Linked DNA regions of Homo sapiens: region 1 is linked to region 2. The links come from fine-mapping of genetic effects on gene expression. A gene starts in region 2. The other region holds a variant in brackets. All regions are shown on one strand. Distances are from middle to middle.

Region 1 (5,382 bases), 61 kb after region 2:
CTCAGAGGCAGAAAAATGTCCTGCCATTTCACTAAATGTATCTAAGCATGAGTTTTTTATGTTTTTCCTAATCAGGACACATTATGCTTCTTTCTTGGTGCTATTTTCTATTTTATTAATTTTTAAAATCTTTACTAAATCCTTCTACTTATTTTAGGGTGTTTTTGTTTGTTTTGGGGTGTTTTTGTTTGTTTAGTTTTTAGAGAGACAGGCTCTTTCCCTGTCACCTAGGCAGGAGTGCAGTGGCATGATCATAGCTCACTGTAACCTTGAACTACTGAGCTCAAGGGATCCTCCCATCTCAGCCTACAAAGTAGCTAGGACTACAGGCGCACACCACCACTCCTGGCTAATTTTTAAATTTTTTTGTTGGAGATAGGGTCTTGCTATGTTGCCTAGGCTGGTCTTGATCTCCTGGCCTCAAGTGATCCTCACATCTTGGCCTCCTGGACCTCTGGGATTACAGATGTGAGTCACTGCACCTGGCCTTCTTCTATAAACTTCTTTTAAGTTTATAATTATTTTTCTAGTTTCTTGAGTTAGAGCTTATTTATTCTTATTTTCTAATAAATGCATTTCACTGAATTAAATTTTCCCTGAATACTTTGGCAGCATCCTGTCCAGAACACAGTTTGGCAACATATATCAAAAGCCTTTAAAATGTTTCTGCCATTTGACTTAGAAATTTTACATCTAAGAACTACATTAAGGAAATAATCAGATGAATGATGTATAAAAGGTATATATTACCATGTTATTTTTAGTATTTTTTAAAAAAGGAAAAATTTTACATTACAATAACAGAAATGTTTTTCTGTAAATTATAATATTTATATATGATTCATTATTCTCTAGCAAGAAAAATTATATTTTTGGATTATTTTTAATGACAGGTAAATGTACATAAGTTATAGCAGGATGTTAAAGATACATACATATAAGAAAAACCTGGAAAGACACTAATATATTAATAGTATCAATGAGTGGTTTTTATTTTCTATTTTATGCTTTTCAGGATTTTGCAAGCCATCTTGAATGTTTCCCAATACTATTGCTTGGCAAATAGCAAAAGTAAGCAAAAGTAAGTGTAACTGGTTTATTGTAGAGTGTCAGCTCAATGGCGCATATAAGATTATGAAATGGTTTTTTTTTCCAATCACTGCTTTCAACCATATTCTATTGAATTCCTCAAATAAATTAATGTATGAATAAATATTGAATGGGAAAGAAAAACCTAGAGGGAGGGCTTTAAAAAAGAGAGGTTTTCCCCTTTACCAGCTCCCAGAGGAAGAATACAAATGGAGTAAAATATTACAAACTGTTGAAAATATTTGCAATTCATATTACAGACAAAGGGATCCATTGCCTTATTTATCAAGAGCTCTTAGAAATCAAGAAGAAAAAGCATGGAAAATATGAAGAGACTTGTCAGAGAGAGATACAAATGATCCTTAAATTTTTGGAAAGGTGTTCTACCTTTCTCATTATATGAGAAATGAAAATCAAAACCATACTGAGACACCATTTCCTACCTATCAGGTTAGCAAAAAATTGAAAAGGTTTTTTTTTGTCTGTTTGTTTTGTTTGTTTGTTTGTTTGTTTGTTTTTTGAGATGGAGTCTCGCTGTTACCCAGGCTTGAGTGCAGTGGCACGATTTCGGCTCATTGCAACCTCGACCTCCTGGGTTCAAGTGATTCTCCTGCCTCAGCCTCCTGAGTAGCTGGGACTACAGATGCATGCCACCATACCTGGCAAATTTTTTGTATTTTTAATAAAGACAGGGTTTCACCATGTTAGTCAGGATACTGTTGATCTCCTGATCATGATCTGCCTGCCTCGGCCCCCCAAAGTGCTGGGATTACAGAAATTGAAAAGTTTTAAAACCCATTGTTAGTGAGGCTGTGGAAAAACAGGCATTCTCAGACTGCTGTGGGCAGGCACAAAATAGAATAATTCCTTTGGAGAGCAATTTGACAGCATCTACCAAAACTGTAGATACACTTGCCTTCCAAGACAAACACCCCATTTCTGGGAGTTTATCCCACAGATACACTTGCACATGTGCTTTGAAAACATTCGGCATTGTCTCCATTAGTAAAAAATGGAAAACAACACAAATGTATGTCAATAGAGGACTGGCTTAGTAAACTAGATATCCACATAGTGGAATAG[T/C]ATGCAGCTCCAATGAAGAGTAAGCAAAATTTCCTCATTGAAATGGAAATATCTCCAAGATATGTTATTAAATGAAAAAATGCAAGATAAAGAACAATGTATGTATGTATGTATATATAAATATATTAAATATGTACACAGAGTATTTTGTGTAAGGGAGAATGAGAATTATATCCATATTTGCTTATATTTGCATAGTGTCACACTGGAAGCCTAAATAGGAACTAATAAAGTCATTTAATAATCAAAACTATATTTAAAAGTTGTCTGGGGAAGCAAGGGTAAGAGTGAGGCTTTCCTGTACTTCTTTTTCACTTTTAAATATAGTTTTGATTGTTGAATAACTGGAACACATTACCCATTTTTTAAATATAAACAACAGAAATGTATTTCTCACAGTTCCAGAGGCTAGAAGGTAGGGATCAGAACCTCGCCAGAGTCAGGTTCTGCTGAGGGCCCTCTTCTGGTTACAGATTGTAGCCTCCCATAGCAGAGAAGGCTACAAGGACCCTGGTTTGTTTTGTTTGTTTGTTTGTTTGTTTGTTTGTTTTTGAGACGGAGTCTTACTCTGTCGCCCAGGCTGAAGTGCAGTGGCGTAATCTTGGCTCACTGCAACCTCCACCTCCCAGGCTCAAGCAACTGTCCGGCCTCAGCCTCCCGAGTAGGTGGGATTACAGGCGTGCGCCACCATGCCCAGCTAATTTTTGTATTCTTAGTAGAGACAAGTTTTCACCATGTTGGCCAGGCTGGTCTTGAACTCCTGACCTCAGGTGGTCTGCCCACCTTGGCCTCCCAAAGTGCTGGGATTACAGATATGAGCCACCATGGCTGGACCCTGTTTTTTAAATTGTGCTAAATGAGAGCCAGTGGGTTTTCAGTATTTATTGATATTAAAATATTGTTTTTCCATATTAACTTTTTTTTTTTTTGAGACAGAGTCTTGCTCTGTCACCGAGTGCAGTGGCACTGATCTCAGCTCACTGCAACCTCTGCCTCCCGGGTTCAAGAGATTCTCCTGCCTCAGCCTCCCGTGTAGCTGGGACTACAGGCACCTGCTACCATGCCCGGCTAATTTTTTGTATTTTTAGTAGAGATGGGGTTTCACTGTGTTAGCTAGGATGGTCTCGATCTTCTGACCTCATAATCTGCCTGCCTTGGTCTCCCAAAATGCCTTATTAACTATTTATGTGATTTTTTAAATAAAATACTTTATTTGTAAGTTTTACACCTATAGATTTGTCTGTTTTTGTTTTTTTTTTTTTCTTTTTTAAATTTGTGTGTGCTATTTTAGTCAGGATTTGGTATTATGGTTATTTGGTCTCCAAAATGGAGTATAATCCACCTAAATAAACTAGAAAAAGAAAAGCAAAAATAAAGCAAGCAGAATGAAAGAATAAAGTTTAGCCGGGTACAGTGGCTCACACCTCTAATCCCAGCACTTTGGGAGGCCGAGGTGGGCGGATCACCTGAGCTCAGGAGTTCGAGACCACCCTGGGCAACATGGTGAAACCCTGTCCAAAAATTTGGCCGGGCGTGGTGGTGCGCGCCTGTAGTCCCAGCTACTCAGGAGGCTGAGGCACAAGAATCGCTTGAGTCCCGGGAGCAGAGGTTGCAGTGAGCCAAGATCACGGCACTGCACTCCAACTTGGGCTAAAGAGTGAGACTCCGTCTCAAAAAATAAATAAATAAAAATTTTTTAAAAAGTTTAGAGCAGAAATCAATGAAATTGAAATCAGAAAAATAGAGAAAATAAATTAAACACTGATTCTTTAACAAGAAAGACAGAGAAGACACAAATTGCTGACATAAACAATGACATAAACAATGAAAGAGGGGACATCACTACTTTCCCTTTTTACAGACAGTAAAAGGATAATAGAGAATCCTAGGGACAACTCTGTGCACACATATACAACAACTTAGATAAAATGGACCAATTCCTTGAAAGACACAAATTATCAGAACTCATTCAAGGAGAAATAAAGTGAATAGTCCTGAATCTATTAAAAGATCTAATTCATAGCTTCCAAAAAGGAAAACTTGAGGTCAAATGATTTCACTGGTGAATTCTTCCAAACATTTGAAGAAGAAATAGCAGCAATTCTTCACAATCTCTTCCAGAAGATAGAGGCAACACTTTGTAGCTCATTTTATGAAACCAGCATTACACTTGTATCAAAACTAGACAAAGACACCAGGCATGGTGGCTTACACCTGTAATCCCAGCACTTTGGGAGGCTGAGGTGGGGGGGGATCACCTGAGGTCAGGAGTTCGAGACCAGCCTGGCTAACATGGTGAAACCCCGCCTCTACTGAAAATACAAAAAATTAGCCAGGTGCAGTGGCGGGTGCCTGTAATCCTAGCTACTCAAGAGGCTGAGGCAGGAGAATTGCTTGAACACAGGAGGCAGAAGTTGCGGTGAGCTGAGATCTTGCCACTGCACTCCAGCCTGGGCAACAAGAGCAAAACTCCATCTCAAAAAAAAAAAAAAAAAAGAAAAAGAAAGAAAAGAAAAAGAACAAAACTAGATAAAGACATCATGAGAAAAGAAAGCTACAGATCAATAACCTTCATGAACATAAGTGCAAAAATTCTTCAGCAAAATCTTAGCAAATCAAATTTAGCAATATATAACATGACACGTCACAACCAAATGAATTTTATCCCAGTAATACAAGGCTGGGTCAGTACTTGAAAATCACTGGGTGTGATTGCAGCACTTTGGGAGGCCAAGGCGGGTGGATTAATTGACATGAGGAGTTCAAGACCAGCCTGGCCAACGTGGTGAAACCCCGTCTCTACTAAAAATACAAAAAATTAGCCAGGCGTGGTGGTACGCACCTGTAGTCCCAGCTACTTGGGAGGCTGAAGCAGGAGAATCGCCGGTGTGGGGAAAAGAAAGAGAAATCAGATTGTTACTGTGTCTGTGTAGAAAGAAGTAGACATGGGAGACTCCATTTTGTTCTGTACTAAGAAAAATTCTTCTGCCTTGAGATGCTGTTAATCTGTAACCTTGCCCCCAACCCCGTGCTCTCTGAAACATGTGCTGTGTCCACTCAGGGTTAAATGGATTAAGGGCTGTGCAAGATGTGCTTTGTTAAACAGAAGCTTGAAGGCAACATGCTCATTAAGAGTCATCACCACTCCCTAATCTCAAGTACCCAGGGGCACAAACACTGCGGAAGGCCGCAGGAACCTCTGCCTAGGAA
Region 2 (5,382 bases):
TATGGTACTATGTTTTTGATATTTATTTTCCCCACAAATTCCATGACTGTTTCTAAATCTCTTCTGCTTCACTCTACCCAGTGTCATTGCCCCTCAAACCCCATTTGAGGAGTGGTCCATGTGTGAAGGGGTTGGGGAGGGGTTTTCCTGGCATTCAGTTTACATCTCAAGTAAGAAAGGTTATGTTGGGGAAGAGGCAGAAAGTTTTTGTAGCCTCAATCCAGAAATGCCTTCTCATATCTCAATGGATTAAAAAGCATTTCCTCAATGATATGGTTTGGTTGTCTCCCAACCCAAATCTCATCTTGAAGTGTAGCTCCCATAATTCCCACATATCATGGAAGAGGTACCTGGTAGGAGGTAATTGAATCGTGGGGGCAGGTCTTTCCCATGCTGTTCTCGTGATAGTGAATAAGTCTCACAAGATCTGATGGTTTTGTTTTGTTTCGTTTTTGTTTTTGAGATGGAATTTCACTCTTGTTGCCCAGGCTGGAGTGCAGTGGCGCGATCTCAGCTCACCACAACCTCCGCCTCCCAGGTTCAAGTGATTCTCCTGCCTCAGCCTCCCGAATAGCTGGGATTACAGGCGTCTGCCACCATGCTTGGCTAATTTTTTGTATTTTTAGTAGAGATAGGGTTTCACCATGTTGGCCAGGCTGGTCTTGAACTCCTGACCTTAGGTGATCCACCAGCCATGGCCTCCCAAAGTGCTGGGATTACGGGCATAAGGCACCACACCCAGCTGACCTGATGGTTTTATAAAGGTGTGTTCCCCTGCACATGTTCTCTCTTGCCTGCCACCATGTAAGAGGTGACTTTGCTCCTCCTTCACCTTCCTCCATGATTGTGAGGCCTCCCCCGCCATGTGGAGCCGTGAGTCAATTAAATCTCTTTCCTTTATAAATTACCCAATCTCAGGTATGTCTTTATTAGCAGCATGAGAACAGACTATTTAATACACTTAAATTCCATTTTTTTTTTTTTTTTTTTTTGAGACAAGAGTCTCAGTCAGCCACCCAGGCTGGAGTGCAGTGGCATGATCTCGGCTCACTGCAACCACCATCTCCCGGTTTCAAGCGATTCTCCCATCTCAGCCTCCCGAGTAGCTAGGATTACAGGCACCTGCCATCATGCCCGGCTAATTTTTGTATTTTAGTAGAGACAGGGTTTCACCATGTTGGCCAGGCTGGTCTTGAACTCCTGACTTCAGGTGATCCGCCCGCCTCGGCCTCCCAAAGTGCTAGGATTACAGGCGAGAGCCACCGTACCTGGCCTCAACTTACATATTTCTAAGAAAAAGAACATTTTCCTACATAACCACAAAATCATTATGACACTCAGGAGACCTATAATTGATTGATAATATTATCTAAAACACAAGTCACTTCAAAATTTTCCCAACTGACGCACCAGAGTAGCTGGGACTACAGGCACGTATCACCACCCCCAGCTAATTTTTGTATTTTTTGTAGAGACGTGTTTTCACCATGTTACCCCAGCTGGTTTCTGAACTGAGCTCAAGGGATCCACCCACTTCGGCCTCCCAGAGTTCTAGGATTACAGGTGTGTGAGCCACTGCACTCAGCCTGTAGTTGTCTTAATTTAATGTTTCTCTTTCTTTCTTTTCTTTTCTTTCTTTCTCTTTCTTTCTTTTTCTTTCCTTTTTTCTCTTTCTTTTTTTCCTTTTTTTTTTTGAGACAGAGTCTCACTTTATCACCCAGGCTGGAGTGCAGTGGCCTGTTGTCGGCTCACTGCAAACTCCGCCTCCCAGGTTCAAGTGATTCTCCTGCCTCAGCCTCCCAAGTAGCTGAGATTACAGGCACCTGCCACCACACTTGGCTAATTTTTTGTATTTTTACTAGAAACGGGGTTTCACTATGTTGGCCAGGCTGGTCTCAACTCCTGACCTCAAGTGATCCGCCTACCTGGGCCTCCCAAAGTGTTGGTATTACAGGCATGAGCCACCATGCCTGGCCAATTTAATGTTTTTCTATTTTTGTTTTAAAATATTTACCTATTCTGAAGTCCAAAGATATTTTCCTATATTATATTCTGAAGACTTTATAGTTTAGGATTTCACATTTAGGTCTTAATCCAGCTACAATTGATTTTTGTGATGAAATGAGAGATAGAGGTCCTGTTTTCTGTTTTGTTTTTTTTTTTGAGACGGAGTCTCCCTCTGTTGCCCAGGCTGAAGTGCAGTGGTGTGATCTCCGCTCACTGCAACCTCCGCCTCCCGGTTCAAGCGATTCTCCTGCTTCAGCCTCCTGAATAGCTGGGACTACAGGTGTGTGCCACCACACCCAGCTAATTTTTGTACTTTTTAGTAGAGACAGGGTTTCACCATGTTGGCCAGGATGGTCTCGATCTCTTAACCTCGTGATCCGCCCACCTCAGCCTCCCAAAGTGCTGGGATTACAGGCGTGAGCCACCGTGCCCGGCCTTCATATTGTCATAGAACCTTCACTGAATAGACCATCTTTTCTCCATGGCTGTATGATGCCACCTTTGTCATAAATCCAGTTTTCAAGTATGCGTGATAAACCGTAAAGAAAAGCAAAGAGTCAAGTATCTGCTTTTGGTAAAATAAATAAATAAATAAATATAAATAAGAAAAGCAAAGTGTTATAAAAGTCGGGCTAGTGGTTTTCTCAGGAAGTGTATCTGTGAAGAACCTGACACTATTCTTTTTTCGCTCTAATGACTTGGCTGTTCATAATTATACTTATCTTTGGTTTATATTTCAGAATAAAATTGTGTTATATTTATCAATAAAAGGTTAGTTAAAAGTAAGCAAACAGAAAAAAAAAAAGAAATATTGATGAGGGGAGCGCCAGCATCTCTCAAAAGTGAGTTCGTGGTTTTGCTCTCAATGGAAAAGCCGGCGGGAGGTGCTAAGGTGGGGATGCTGAATCCACGGATGGCCAAGCGGAGACGCGGCACTTCACCGGGGGCAGCGAGGGGCCCAGACCTTGCTCGGATTGTCCCGGTGGTAACTGGGAGACCTCGCCAGTGAGGGAAGTTACAGATCAGCTGCGCCCGGAATTAAACGACCCACAGACAACGGCGCAAACAGAGGGACTGACCTGCTTTAGTGAGCTCCCAAAACCTGCTCTCGCATAAGCACACCCTCCTCCGCTCACAGAGACGGATTTCTGCCCCAGCCGCAGCCTCGCGAGGTAGGCGGCGCCGCGAGGGCCTCTGGGAAGGCGGTCCGTGGGCAGCCGCGGGGCACTCTGGGACTGGGCTCTGGGCGGCTTTTTTGCGAGTGGCGGGCCGACTGTGTAGTCCGCTCCGGCAGCGCGCTCTGCCCGGCTTCCTCAGTCTCCTCGCCGGGAGCGTCCGGGAGCAGCTCCGAGGCCGCGGCGAAACCAGGTGGAGTCCGAGGTTCGGAGGAGTATCAGAGGTTAGGGGAAGGCCGGAGAATGGGCTGGGAGGCTGCGTTTCGGAGCTTAGGGTTCTGTCCCTGCGATCGCCGCGTCTCCCTCCCTTGGTGGGCGCGGCTCCCGGGAAGCGGCTCGTCTCGTCTCCCCTCACAGGCCGGGTTCCCGTTCTGGACCTTCGCCCTCGGAACACAGTGCTGTTGGCCGGGACTCCTTCCCGAGGTGGACGGCTCCCTGTTCTTATTCCTGGCTCTGCCAGAACTGTAGGAAGTGCTCAGTACACTTTAGGGCATGCATGGCACTCCCTGGGAGACAGTGCTTTAGGGCCAGAGGAAAGATCTTCCCTGAAGGCAAACGCCCGCGGAGCCCACAAGTCCGGGCCGCACTGAACAAGTCAGGATGTTGCCATCGGCAATTCTGCAGAAGGCAGTAACCCATCTGAGAGAAAGAGCCGCTGTCATAAGGTCTCTTGCTTGAGCTGCTGGGTTGAGAATGGAGCTGGAAGAGGGAACTGATCTCGGAGCTCCTTGGGGATCTTGGTTATGTCTGACCCTTTTACTTTCAGGGAGCAGGGATTGGATCAAGTCATTGCATCTAGAGTACGGGGGAACGAAGAAATCATGGAGAGAGTTTGCCCCAGGAGAGAGGCGAGCGTTATGTAACCTAGGATCTGGGGTGGGTAACAGTCTGTGCAGTGTCAATGTGAGAGGAGAAAACACCCAACGTGAGGGAATGGTCAGGTAAGAAAGGACCAGAAGTTCCGGTTCTACCATAGCAAGGACCTAAGTTGCTAATTTAGGTTCTTTAATGCAGACCTGGTCTTTCAGAACTTCTTTCTCTTCCCTAGCCTTGTCATTTCAGCATTCTGGCCTTCCCTATGAGGAGGAAGATCAACGAAGTCACAGGTGAATAGGAGTTTCTCTTCTAAAGTTTCATCTCCTTTGTCAGGGGGAATCGATACACTCTCTCATCTCTTCCTTGGGGAAAAAGAAGGAGATCTATCTTCATCGAGTGCTAATATGCGTACTATATGTTATCACTCAATGGTCGGATATCTCAGTAGGGTTAGTAGGTATTTTAAAAATGTGTCAGTAACTTCAGGAAAACTAGAACCTTGTCCAAGCTTACTCAAAAGGCAAGTAGCATACTACTAAATGCTACCGAACTACTCAGGATTAGGTTTAGAATCCATATCTGTAGGACTCCCAGACTCTTGGCATTATGCTGTTTCCCAGCATCCCATTCACTTACTACCTAACAATTTTGCCATACCTGTGTACTACCTGTATTATTCTATGTTTTTACTTACTTTTTTTTTTTATAAAAATCAAACTTGTCCTAAGAAACAATATCTGTGAAATTAGCCATTTGATGGCTGCTCCAATAACAGTATAGTTATTCTAAGGTGTATCTAAAAATGTTGGTCCATGTGCTATGTAAAATCGTCTCGTGTCAGACATACAAACTACAATTTGGGACACAATGCACTGCATTATGCTCTCTTCTGGATTCTTTTCTGCGTAGGAAAGTCCCAGACACATCTGAGCATCAGTCATCCATCCCTAGTGTACTGTTTTATTCTTATAGATGAATACTTTCACAGAGAATGCCCTGCTTTGTATCTTCTCCAAAAGACATTTCACTTCCCTGTTTAGAACTACCTGTTCTCAATGTTGTATGTAAAACAAGTAGGAACTCCATACATTTCAGGAGCTTCCTCTCTCTTTGGGGAGTTAATGTGTACACAGGAAATAGTCTAACTCTATGCTGTTCAGTAGAGCTTTCTGTGATCAGGGAATGTTCTGTATCTGTGCCTTATCTGTATCCACCAGCCAGATGTAGCTACTGAGCACTTAATATATGGCTAGTGCAACTGAGATGTGAATTTTATTTTATTTTAATTAAATTTAAGTAGCCACATATGGCTAGTGGCTACTAATGGCTACCATATTGGACAGCCAGGTCTAGATATTTGAAATAAAATATTTTAAGGTTATTG

Which allele goes with the higher level. Alleles are on the strand shown, and positions count from the first base shown. SD is a standard deviation of normalised expression in the study named.
With allele T in place of C in region 1, the expression in skeletal muscle of the gene that starts at base 3,193 in region 2 is higher (large effect, 1.0 SD a copy in FUSION).

What was found. PIP is the estimated chance that this variant, and not a neighbour inherited with it, causes the effect. A credible set is the group of variants that fine-mapping cannot tell apart.
Region 1: its variant is the best candidate, but not a certain one, in a credible set for the expression of EXO5-DT in skeletal muscle (FUSION, PIP 0.65).

Annotation. Positions count from the first base shown.
Region 1 is chr1:40,566,967-40,572,348 of GRCh38, forward strand. LOC105378673 (a long non-coding RNA gene) reads left to right here. Exons shown (of 3, transcript XR_947235.2): 2 at 1,016-1,081; 3 at 1,350-1,600. Among named protein-coding and RNA genes, the nearest start is that of ZNF684, 38 kb to the left of the region's middle. The variant T/C (reference allele first, on the strand shown) is at 2,173.
Region 2 is chr1:40,505,503-40,510,884 of GRCh38, forward strand. It overlaps EXO5-DT (EXO5 divergent transcript), which reads right to left and starts at 3,193. Exons shown (of 2, transcript NR_187365.1): 1 at 3,087-3,193. It overlaps EXO5 (exonuclease 5), which reads left to right and starts at 3,265. Exons shown (of 4, transcript NM_001346953.2): 1 at 3,265-3,406; 2 at 3,949-4,123; 3 at 4,231-4,288. RefSeq lists enhancers at 3,302-3,551, 3,582-3,671.